Linked DNA regions of Homo sapiens: region 1 is linked to region 2. The links come from fine-mapping of genetic effects on gene expression. Tissue or cell type: atrial appendage. Region 2 holds a variant in brackets; the other region holds the start of a gene. All regions are shown on one strand. Distances are between the middles of the regions.

Region 1 (5,381 bases), 190 kb before region 2:
GCAATGTTTTGTGAACAAGTAGCATGACTAATACATGATTTGTCTACACCATTAAAAATTTTAATTTTCTTTTTGCATCCCAATCCCTATGGCTTTCAATTAAGTCTTATAGAAAAGGAATGGTGTTTCTTGTATACAATGAAATAGAGGATTGAATCAACTCATGTACAGGAGTTAATTTACATGATTAAGAATGCTAATAAAATACCCGAAATTACTACACTGATTTGTGGATTAAGAAGGCTAATAAAATACCGGAAATTACTACACTGATTTGTGGAAATTGGTGAATAAAAAGTCAGGTTCAAAAAGCTTAGTTTGCTGCAGCTGATATTAAGCCTATATTAACATTTTGATAGGCCACTACAAGATACAGAGCAATATCATCAGAGTTGCTTTGCTCTTTATAAGGTCATTTTATAGTACTGAGACAGAAATAATTGTAATAAATTACTGGCACAATGTGTTTCTAGTAATTTAGAAAATGTTCCGGTATTTGAATAGAAATATAATCAGGATTCAGGCGCAGCTATATTGGTCTGTAAAACCGGATTAAAGCAATCAATCTGTTATCAAAAATCTCTGTCGGAAGATTATTAGGACCACCCAATTCACCGTTTCAATTCTAATGACCATTTGCCCTAGACAGTAGAATAGATAGGTGGAGAAAGTGAGCTTCCAATTTACATGACTTTCCAAACACCTTAATGCCTTTGCGTAAACATCACTGGCAATTTTTTTTAAGTTAAAAAATCGGCAAAATGGAAAGACAGCGGTGGTCCTTTGACCCTGTTCCGCTGGGGCAGGGATCGGGAGGGTGGGGATTGAGACTTCACTTAAGAGCTGCTTCAAGGAGTGCACAGAAACCACAGCGGGCCTTTTCTGAACCATTTGCTATCCCCGCAGCGAAGGGACGCTTAAGGAGGAAGTGCCTGTGGAGCTGAGAAAGCGTTATTTCATCGCGGAATACAAATAATTCAGGTCTCTAGATGGCAGCCTTCAATGCCTTTGGAAAGCAGTCTCTCTCCTCCTCCGCCACCCCCACCTCCCCTCCCACCGCATCTCGGCTCCTTGGCAATGTAGTATCACTCCATGTGTGCCCTGGCCAGTGGATATTGGGTTTTGCTGCTCTCCAAGAATCCGAACTTAAAGTGTTTATTCTAGGGCCTGGTGCTCTGCTCTGGAAGCTACCTACCTACCTGCTTGGGGAAAAGAGGGAGTAGGGATGGCACGAAGAGCCACGCTAAGCCGCTGCCCAGGAGAGGTGGGGCTGCGCCGCAGCCAGGACACCCTCTCCCTGGGAGCAACAGCATCCTTGGCTCCCGGCGCGAGCGCTCCGCGCCCAGCGAGCGCAAAGAGCGCAAAGGCCACCTGCCCGGCTGGGGGAGCAGGCCCAGCACCACCGCCCCGATTTACCCAGACATTTATGGGAAAGACATAAAAATCTCAGGTTCTTAATTTCGCAAAGGACTGAGTTAGAAGGAGTGTGGAACAGGGGCAAAAAAGAGACAGGAGAAAGAAACACACCCCGAAAAACACGTTACTCGCACCCGGCAGCGCCTGGGGTGGCGTCCGTGACCTACCCCGGTGTGGGGGACGAGCAAAACCAAAGGTGTTAAAGAAGGAACTCGCAGACTGGCAGGGGGTGTGGGGACGGTGGAGGACTGTGGGACTGCAGGGGACCTAGGTGTTTTCTGCCCTGTCTTAAGATCTCGCTTTGGGGGCAGTCTAGGTGTCGGTCGGGGGTGAGGGACAATCTTCCCCACCCCAGCAGCCCCAGACACCCGCCCAGGTCAAGGTGGAAGGAAAGCGGGGGTACTTTGCCCTAGCCCGGTTCCCTCCTGTTTTAGACCTTGGAATCTGTCTCTCCACAAGGTGTGAAACCTCTCCAAGCTGTGTCCGCGGAAAGTCCGGCTCCTGGCTCCACCTAGGGCAGAGCAGACCTCCGTCCCTGGGCCTTAGAGGCGGGCACGGGGCTGACCCCCAACCCGTGCCACTCCAGCGCACAGGCCCCACTCAGCATCGCGCCCTGTGGGGCAGTTGACAGGGTCCCCTGTAGCTCCAGCGAGGCTGGGCCGGACTTATTTACAAGTGCAGTGACCCCTGTCTCCTCGCTGGGAGCCCCGTGCAAACCGAAGCGCTCTGGGGCAAGTTGGTGAGCGACTCACAACGCGGAACGGAGTTTGATCGACATGGTATTGGGCATAGAAAGAAGCGGGTCTTACCTTGGTACCGAGAGCAGGGAGTTGCCATCCATTGTTGGTGGGCGCCCAGAGAAGAAAGACGGAAAGTGCAGGCGAAGGATAAGTCTGTGGTGCTAGGACCCAGCTCCCAGAGTGCCAGACTGGCGCGCGCCAGGAGAGAGGCGCGCAGGCTGGGGCGGCGGCGGCGCCCACGGAGACTAGCTCCTCCCTGGCCAGCAAGCTCTGTGCGCTGCGACCGCCCGCTGTCCCCTCCCGCCGTCCTCTCTGATCTTGCAGGAGCGCGTGGCCAACGCTCCCACCTTTCTGCCTGGCTCCTGCCTCCTGCAGGCGGGCCCCAGTCTCAGTTGCTCGAGGATCCTGCTCTATCGCTCATTCGTGCCCAGAAGCATAGGTGACTCCGACAAAATTCCTCTCTCCCCAACCACCATCGTCTCCCCTCCCTTTCTCGCTGGCGTACAGTAGGTCTGAGCCCTGAAGTTGTTCACGCACTTTCCCACATTCACGCCCTCACTCCTGGCAATGCCGACACTCCCCACTGGTTGCGCGCCACTCCTCTGGCTTCCTGTGTCGATTTCATTTTTGTTTGTGGTCTACCATGTTATGGTCGATCACTCAGAACGATGCTGGCTTTGACCTCCTAAGTCTTTTCCCTTTATTTGGACTTTCTCTCTTGGTTTTGGTTTTCACGTTTCTTTAACTCATTTTGCTTAACTGTGACTTAGTCTTCTCTCTCTTCTGTTAGAACCGTGTGCGCACATAGAAATCTCAAAACCTATGAGAGCGGCCATCCATCCGAGGACAGCACTCAGAACCTGGGAGGGAGAGCTGTCACAAACTTCCCCAGTTGACGGCTGGGTATCTCCCTGAGCAAAAAGGACAGTTTTCTTAAGAAGAAAGACACTGATAGTAGCAAATATCTGCTAAAATGAGGGCGCTGTTGAATCTGCTTCTTTTTCCAATTAAAAAACAAATTAAAAATAAAATTTGGGACTTCCACAAATGGGAAGGTTGAGCCAATGTACTTTTAGCTATTCCTCCTAGTAAGTACAACGAAATCCCCCGGATATTATCTCTGAAACAGGCATGAGAAAAAGGTGGACAGAAGAATGCAGACCAGCTAGAGATCCTGGGACTCAAGGCTTGGCATGATGATGGGTTCCTGAGGTTCTCCCAGACTTTGGCTGAAGAAGATGACAACCCGGAAATGTCAAGGGGCAGAGACAGGAAAAGCCTTGACAAAGGACTCCTCTTTCTAGCCAAAGGATCAGGAGAGAGGCAGCTTAGCAAGATGGAAAATTTACACACAATAATAGCTCCACTGTGGCCAAACACCATGAGAAAAAACCTGTGGACCTTTTTCAACTACACCATCAAAGGCCAAGTAGGGAGCCTACATTTCACCATCTGTAGGCTCTAAGGATGTAAGTCAGTCCCCTGGGCGAGGTGGTGTCAGAGGAGACTAAGTAGGGACCAGGACTTTCATCCCCTCCAAACACTGGCCGCACTCACCTCTTCATGTCTCGTTTCCCCCGTCATGGTGCCAAGAAGAGCTTGAACTTCCACATCCACACAGAAATAATGAAGTCCCCTTCCCATTCCACACATACAGGTGGCATTAAGGCAAAGTAGGGAGCCAGGACTTTTTAAAAAATATTTTTTATTTCCATAGATTTTTGGGGAGCAGGTGGTATTTGGTTACTTAAGTTCTTTAGTGGTGATTTGTGAGGTTTTGGTGCACCCATTACCTGAGCAGTATACCCTGAACCCAATTTGCAGTCTTTTATCACTTACCCCCTTCCCACACTTTCCCCTGAGTCCCCAAAGTCTATTGTAGCATTCTTATGCCTTTGCATCCTCACAGCTTAGCTCCCACTTACGAGCGAGAACATATGTTTGGTTTTCCATTCCTGAGTTACTTCACAAAGAATAATAGTCTCGTGTTCCATCCAAATTGCTAAAAATGCCATTAATTCATTCCTTTTTATGACTGAGTAGTATTCCATCATATATATGTATAGCAGAATTTCTTTATCCACTCGTTGATTGATGGGCATTTGGGCTGGTTCCATGGGATCCAGGACTTTTAATCCTAACAAGGAGTAGCAGCACCGCTTCTTCACCTTGGTATCAGTGGAGCTTGTACTTTCACATCCACAGAGCAGTAATCGGCACCCCCCCCCCCCCGCCCCGCCCCACTTCCACTCTACACTGAAGCAGTGTCAGAGGAATTGTTGTGGAGAGTCAAAAACCATAGTTCAGAAGTAATAAGGCCCTGTGTGTGTCCCCTGCCCCCCACTCCCAATCACAGAAGGCCACATGGGAAGCAGGAACTGGGTACTCCTACCACTCTTAGCCAGAGAGATATCAGTGCAGGCCTAGTGAGGACCCTGAACTCCCACCCACCCTTGCTTCACAGTAATGAATGCCACTACCTGTTTTTCAAGTGTCAACAAAAGCCAAGTGAGGAGCCCAGACTTCTAACCCCACTTGGTAGTGATGAGGCAGTGCTGCCCTTATTTTCCTTGCCTTACAGGAGAAGTGTCAAGAGAATCCGTCTAAAACAGCTCTTTAAATAAAATTCAGAATGTTCTAACATAATGCCCCAAATAAGCAGCCTTTAATAGAAAATTATTTGTCATATTAAGAATCAGATCTGAATGAGAATCAACACAAAACAAAACAATCAATTGATACTAAATAACATGGAAATGACAGGGATGTTAAATGTATCTGTCAAAAGATTTTAAAGCAGCCATGATAAAAATAATTTAATAAGTAATATAAAAAAAATAGAAAGTCAGCCCCTAAAATATCTAAGCAAATATAAGTAGAAGATGTAAAGAAAAACTAAGTGGAGATTTTAGAAGTGAAAAATACAGTAACCAAAATAAAACACAAACTGTTTTATTAGTTGGAGAGAAACATCACTTTACCCATAAGGGAAATATAGTTCAAAAACAGTGGATTTCCCACTAGAAGCCATGGAGGACTGAAGTAATTGACAACATTTTTCAGGTGTGGAGGAAGACAACTATGAACACAGAATCTTATGTCTAATAAAAATACTCATTAGAAATGAAGATGAAAATGGTATAGAATTCCAGCAGAGCTCTCCTAAAAGAATGATTAAAGGAAATTCTCTAGACACCAATGAAACTGTCTTTACAGTTTCAGGCA
Region 2 (5,381 bases):
CTAGTCTCATCACTTAAGCACAGTAGGCAAAAAGCCAGAAAATTGGCTTAAAAGTGGTTTAGAGACAAGGGACAGGGCAGACCTCTAAAGCCGTTCTGCTGCAGTCCAGGAGTGCCTCATATGTAAGTCCTAATAAACTCACCTACTCACTAGCTTGGTCTTGTCCGAATCAACTGTTGGTCTCTTGGCTCCCTATCAGTTTGGAGACTATTTTTTTTTTTTTTTCATGCGATTCCAGGTTTTTCTCATCATAAGAAATAAATCATGATTTGGTTAAATTTTATGGCCACAATTTCCTTTATATAATGCTCTCATCTTAAAATAGTGAACATTTGCTCATTTCCTTTCTTTGCCTAAAATAGTATGTAGTTATTGGTATTTTTAATCCTAAATTACATACAATCACTGAAAAGGAAAAATATTAATACCTTAAATTCTCATTATTTTAGGAGCTAATGATTGTGCTACCCCTGACAAAAAGGCAAAAAATAAAATAATGGTGGCAAAAATTATAGCCAGTGAAGACTAACAAAGCATAACATAAAGGGCTTAACGCACAGATATTAAAACAGTGTTCCTTTTTACCTTTGAAATCAGCTACAAGCAGTCTTCATTTGAGAGAGTTTTTCAAGGTTAAGGACAGTCATTGCCATTTCTAACAGGTTGCTCAGATGTTGAGTAATTTCAGCTTTATTTCCCACAGCCACTTTCAATTTTCTCACTAGAAGTAACAAATGGGTTCTTTGTAGTGAAGGAAAGCCAAGCCCAGGGCAATGGGACAGGAAGATCAAGTTTAAGGAGGCTGCCAGTGCCACATGGCTGTTTCCACCATATGAACTCTCAAACTGCACGGTGCTATTATTGGCCACATTTCCAAATTCTTTCTGCATGCTCAACTTCTTCCTGGACCCTGCATGTTTCATCCAGCCAAATTCCCAAATTCTTGCTTCCCATTAAATTTCTCCTACAAAAACGTTGTTTTTGCCACTTCTTACAAGGCGTGGTGGCTGAAAAACAGGCCTAGAGCCAGGATGCCTGGATTTAAACCTTAGTTCAGCTACTTACCTGGAAAGGCTGTCAGCCCTCTACATCTCAGTTTTCTCATTCCTCAGTTAATACTGGCAGCATCCTCATAGGTCTTATAGAGGTTATTCAATGAGTAAATACACGTGAAGTTCTTTGAGTAGTGCCTGGCACATCATGAGCACCACATAAGCATGTGTTTTTGCTAAATACACTTATTCTTGTGCATTTTATGCCCATATTTCACCCTCTTCCTTTATTAATTTTTTCTAGTACTCCTTGTAAAAATCTTCTATTTCTTCTACCTTCTGACAGAATGTTTCTCCATGGTTTTGCTGTAACTGAAAGCTCTCTTTTCTTAGCTAACACAACTTCCAACCCACATCCTAAATAGGCTTTGTGATATTAATCAATATTAGAGAAATCTAGGATCTACAGTAGTGTTATGAAAATTTGAGCAGAAATGCCTTAAGGCTGAGCATGGATTGTCCATTGTGCCATTATTCCTACCATTGAATTCTGCATAGTAGAGCATCTCTGTAGAACTTAAGTTTGCTTCCACCGATCGGTTCTTCCAAATTCAGAGTCATTATTCAAGTGGTTTCCAGTGAGTTATAAGCAACATCCCTTTAGAAAGACCCTTTCTCATTTGGGCTCTGTTCCTGCCAAGGATCCTCAGGAATTAGACTGGTGGGTCCTCGGTATATTTTATCAGTTCATCTTTTCCTAATTGAGCACAAGGATATGGGAGAGAAGTAACAAAACAGCATATCTTTTTTTCTTACTTAAAAAGAGTTGAGGCATTTTGTTCGGCATACTGAGTAGAACCAACTTGAAGGATATATTAATTCATACTTCTTTTACATTCAAATTAATGTCTCAAGCCACTCTCCTTCCAGCTCACAGGCAATCCAGTATTTCTACTTTGGAGCCTCCAAGAATTAATCGAGAATTATGGATGCTTGCTAAGTGTTTATAGAGAACATTGCTTCTCTTGTGTTGGTGCAGACATTTTAAAACTCAGAGTTATTATTTCATTAAGATTGGAAACCCCATAACTGCCTCTGAAACATCTACTTTAGAAGTGGTTGCTTTTTTTTTAAATCGCTACCATAAAGGAAGGCCTCAGGGATTCTCTGCTCATAGTGATACCAGTTTTGGAGAAGTCGACTCTTGATAGAAATAGTTGTACAGCTTATGTGCCGGGGATCGAGTCTACTGCCCCACTGCCACCAGTGTTAGTGTAAATCTCAAGCTAACCTCTCCATGTCATGTTCAGGTTGAGGTTACTCTATGATTGTGATCATAAATCTTCAGGCTTGGGTTACACTCGTAGGCTCTTGTCACTGCAAAGCATTGTGTATCTGGGTATAAAAAGATTTTTTTCTTCAGTCACACTGTGTACCATACTCAGCCCTCTACCAGCATTGGTCCATACCCCTCTTCATATGGGGGAAACATATTTAGGTTGTTTCTTAAATTGTGCCAACCAGGTTACCACAGTCCCTTCACGTGTGAGGTTATATTTAGAGTCTTTCTTACTTTTTTATTAGAAATAATGCTGGAATGAACATCTTTTTACATATATATTGCATATTTGCCCGATTATTATGTTAGAATAAAATTTTAGAACCCCTATGATTGAAGCAAAGATTAAATATTTCTAAAGACTGTGGCACATATTTCCAAAGGACTTTTAGATTTGTTGTATATTTCGCCCTTTTGCCAATGTGTTGGAAGAAACATAATTTACACCAACTCATTAATTGCATCTTAAAAGCCTCTTGCAGTTTTCAAAGAAAGCCTTTGCACATGCTTTAATTTTC[A/G]TATCAGTCTTGTGAAGCTGTCAATATTATTTCCATCTTACCTATAATAACAATGAAACAGCAGATTTAACTAACATGATTAAGATCAAACAGGTAATACTTGGCTGAGGCGCTATTTGAATTTGAATAATATGGAATACCTTTGTGTATTTATTCATCCTCTTTTTCTGTATGCATTTGTTGAGCACCAGTAATGTGTCAGGCACTGTGCAGGGAGCGGGGTGTGTGCCACTTAGGTGGAAGGTAAGCTCTCTGACACCACAGAACTTACATTTTAGGAGGAATGAAGACATTAACAATATTTGCATATTTATAAATAAGAAATATTGAGACTGTGATAAGTACATATTGGAGGTATCTGAGAAAATATAATGGGGAGATTGTAACCTAGTGAGAGCAGTCAGCAAGGCACAAGAAACATGGCATGCCAAAGGGACTACAGAACACCACTATAGCCAGAGGTAGAGAGTGAGAAGCTGCATGGCATGAGATGAAGCTGGAGAAGTAGAGACCAGGCTGTGCAGAGCTCACTGGCCCCACGCTTCCCCATTTCTCAGTGCTGGAGAATCAGTTTTGTTTGTTTCAATTTTCTTGGCACAATACTTACATAAAATAAGGTAAATAATACGTCACTAAAAACCAAACAAATTTTAAAGTACATAAAATACAAGCTCCAAGTATATGTTTAGTTTATAGACATAAAACTACTCTGTGAAATCACTATCAAAATGTCTAGACGCTTGCTCTTGGTTTCTGTTCTGATCTCCCTGCAGAGCATTAACAGTCCAGGAAACCAGGCTGCAGAAGGCACATCAGGCAGCACGGCTCTAGGCCACGACTATGGCTAAGAGCAATAAAAGGAAGCACCTGGTTAAAATTATCGGGAGTGTGTTTTGAGATGATCACTCTGGCTGCCAGGGGGAGAAAAGTGGATTTGGGTGGATGAATTAGGAAGTGAATTCATAGGACAGAGAGTGATGATGATAGCGTGTGCCAATGTTGTAGGTGAGATTTCAAAAATAGCCCCCTAAGATAGCCCACCCTAATCTTTAGAATCTATGAATATTAGATATTGTACCACTGATTATGTTATGTTATACGCACAGTTGACCTTAAGGTAGGAAAATTAGCTGGATGTGTCTGGCTCTAATCACTTGAGTCCTGAAAATTGCTTAGAGAGCTTTCTCCAGCTGGTTGTGGGAGGAGAAGTCAGAGAGATTGCGAGCAGAAGAAAAATTCACTGCACCATTGCTGACTTGAAGTTTGAGGGTACTCCGTGATGAAGAATGTGCACAGGTGGCCTCAAGAAGCAAGGAGCAGTCCTCCGCTGACAGCCAGCAAGGAAATGGGGACTTTGATGCTAAAACTGCAAGAAGCTAAATTCTAGCAATAACAGGAATGATCTTGTAAAGGGACTCCAAGCTCCAGATGACAATGCAGCTGGCTGACACTTTGATTTCAGCCTGAGCAGAGAACCTAGCCACACCCTGCTAAACTTCTAATCTTCAGCACTGTGACCTAATATTATGGGTGTTGTTTTAAGCGGCTGAGTTTGTGTTGATTTGTTATACAGCAATAGAAAACCAATACAGCCAGAATGGTGCCAATGGAGATTATAAAGAAGAGGATAGATGGATTTTGGCAATAATTTAGTAAGTAAAATTCATGTGAGATAGTGATTTGATATAAGAGATAAAGAAGAAGTGTTGAAGATGACTCCTAAATGTCTGGTTTATATGACTAGATGGACGATGGTTCCATTTACTGAGATGATAGAACATACCAGAAGAGGATCAAGTTAAAAGGGAAAAAAGATTATGATTTAATTTTTTTTTGGCCTGATTTGTTTTGAAGTGACTGTGATCCATCTGAGAAGAGCTGTCAGCTGTCAGCCAAGCGGTTATATTTATAGACCTAGAACTCAACAAGAGGTATGGGCTAGGAATGAAAATGTGTGAGTTATCTGTATAGAAGTGCTGATTAGAGCCCTGGGTGAGGTTAACACAGAGTAAGTAGAAAGTGCATTTAGCACAGAGCATGAGGCTGTAAATACCTCAGAGAAGAGGAAAAGCCTGGAAAGATAGGGATTCCTGAGAAGTTGGGGCAAAGCCAGGGGAGTGTTAGATCAAGGAACTTGGATTAGTTCCTAATGCTGCTGTAACAAATTACTACCAATTCGGTGCTCTAACAAAACATAAGTTTATTATCTCCCAGTTCTGACAGTCAAAAATCTGGCACAGATCTCACCAAGTAAAATCACATTGGTAGGCTGCATTTCTTTCTAGAAGCGCTAGGTAGAACTGATTCCTTTGCTTTCTCCAGCTTCTACAGGCTACTGGCATTCTTGGCTCAAGGCCTCTTCCTCCATCTTCAAAGCCAGCAACATCAGGTCAAGTTCTTTTCATCCTTCCATCTCTCTGCTTCTTTCTCCTGCACCTCCTTCTTCCACTTTTGAGGCCCTTTGTCATTACATTGGGCCCTCCTGGATAATACAAGATTTTAAGATCATCTGATTAGCAAACTTAATTTTAT

Alleles and levels. Alleles are on the strand shown, and positions count from the first base shown. SD is a standard deviation of normalised expression in the study named.
For the expression in atrial appendage of the gene that starts at base 2,346 in region 1, G is the high allele of the variant in region 2 and A is the other (small effect, 0.32 SD a copy in GTEx).

Evidence for each region. PIP is the estimated chance that this variant, and not a neighbour inherited with it, causes the effect. A credible set is the group of variants that fine-mapping cannot tell apart.
Region 1: it holds the start of SPHKAP, and the variant in region 2 is the best candidate, but not a certain one, in a credible set for the expression of SPHKAP in atrial appendage (GTEx, PIP 0.61).

What each region holds. Positions count from the first base shown.
Region 1 is chr2:228,179,342-228,184,722 of GRCh38, forward strand. SPHKAP (SPHK1 interactor, AKAP domain containing) reads right to left here and starts at 2,346. Exons shown (of 12, transcript NM_001142644.2): 1 at 2,226-2,346. The coding sequence starts at 2,257.
Region 2 is chr2:228,374,084-228,379,464 of GRCh38, forward strand. No RefSeq gene overlaps it. Among named protein-coding and RNA genes, the nearest start is that of SPHKAP, 200 kb to the left of the region's middle. The variant A/G (reference allele first, on the strand shown) is at 2,850.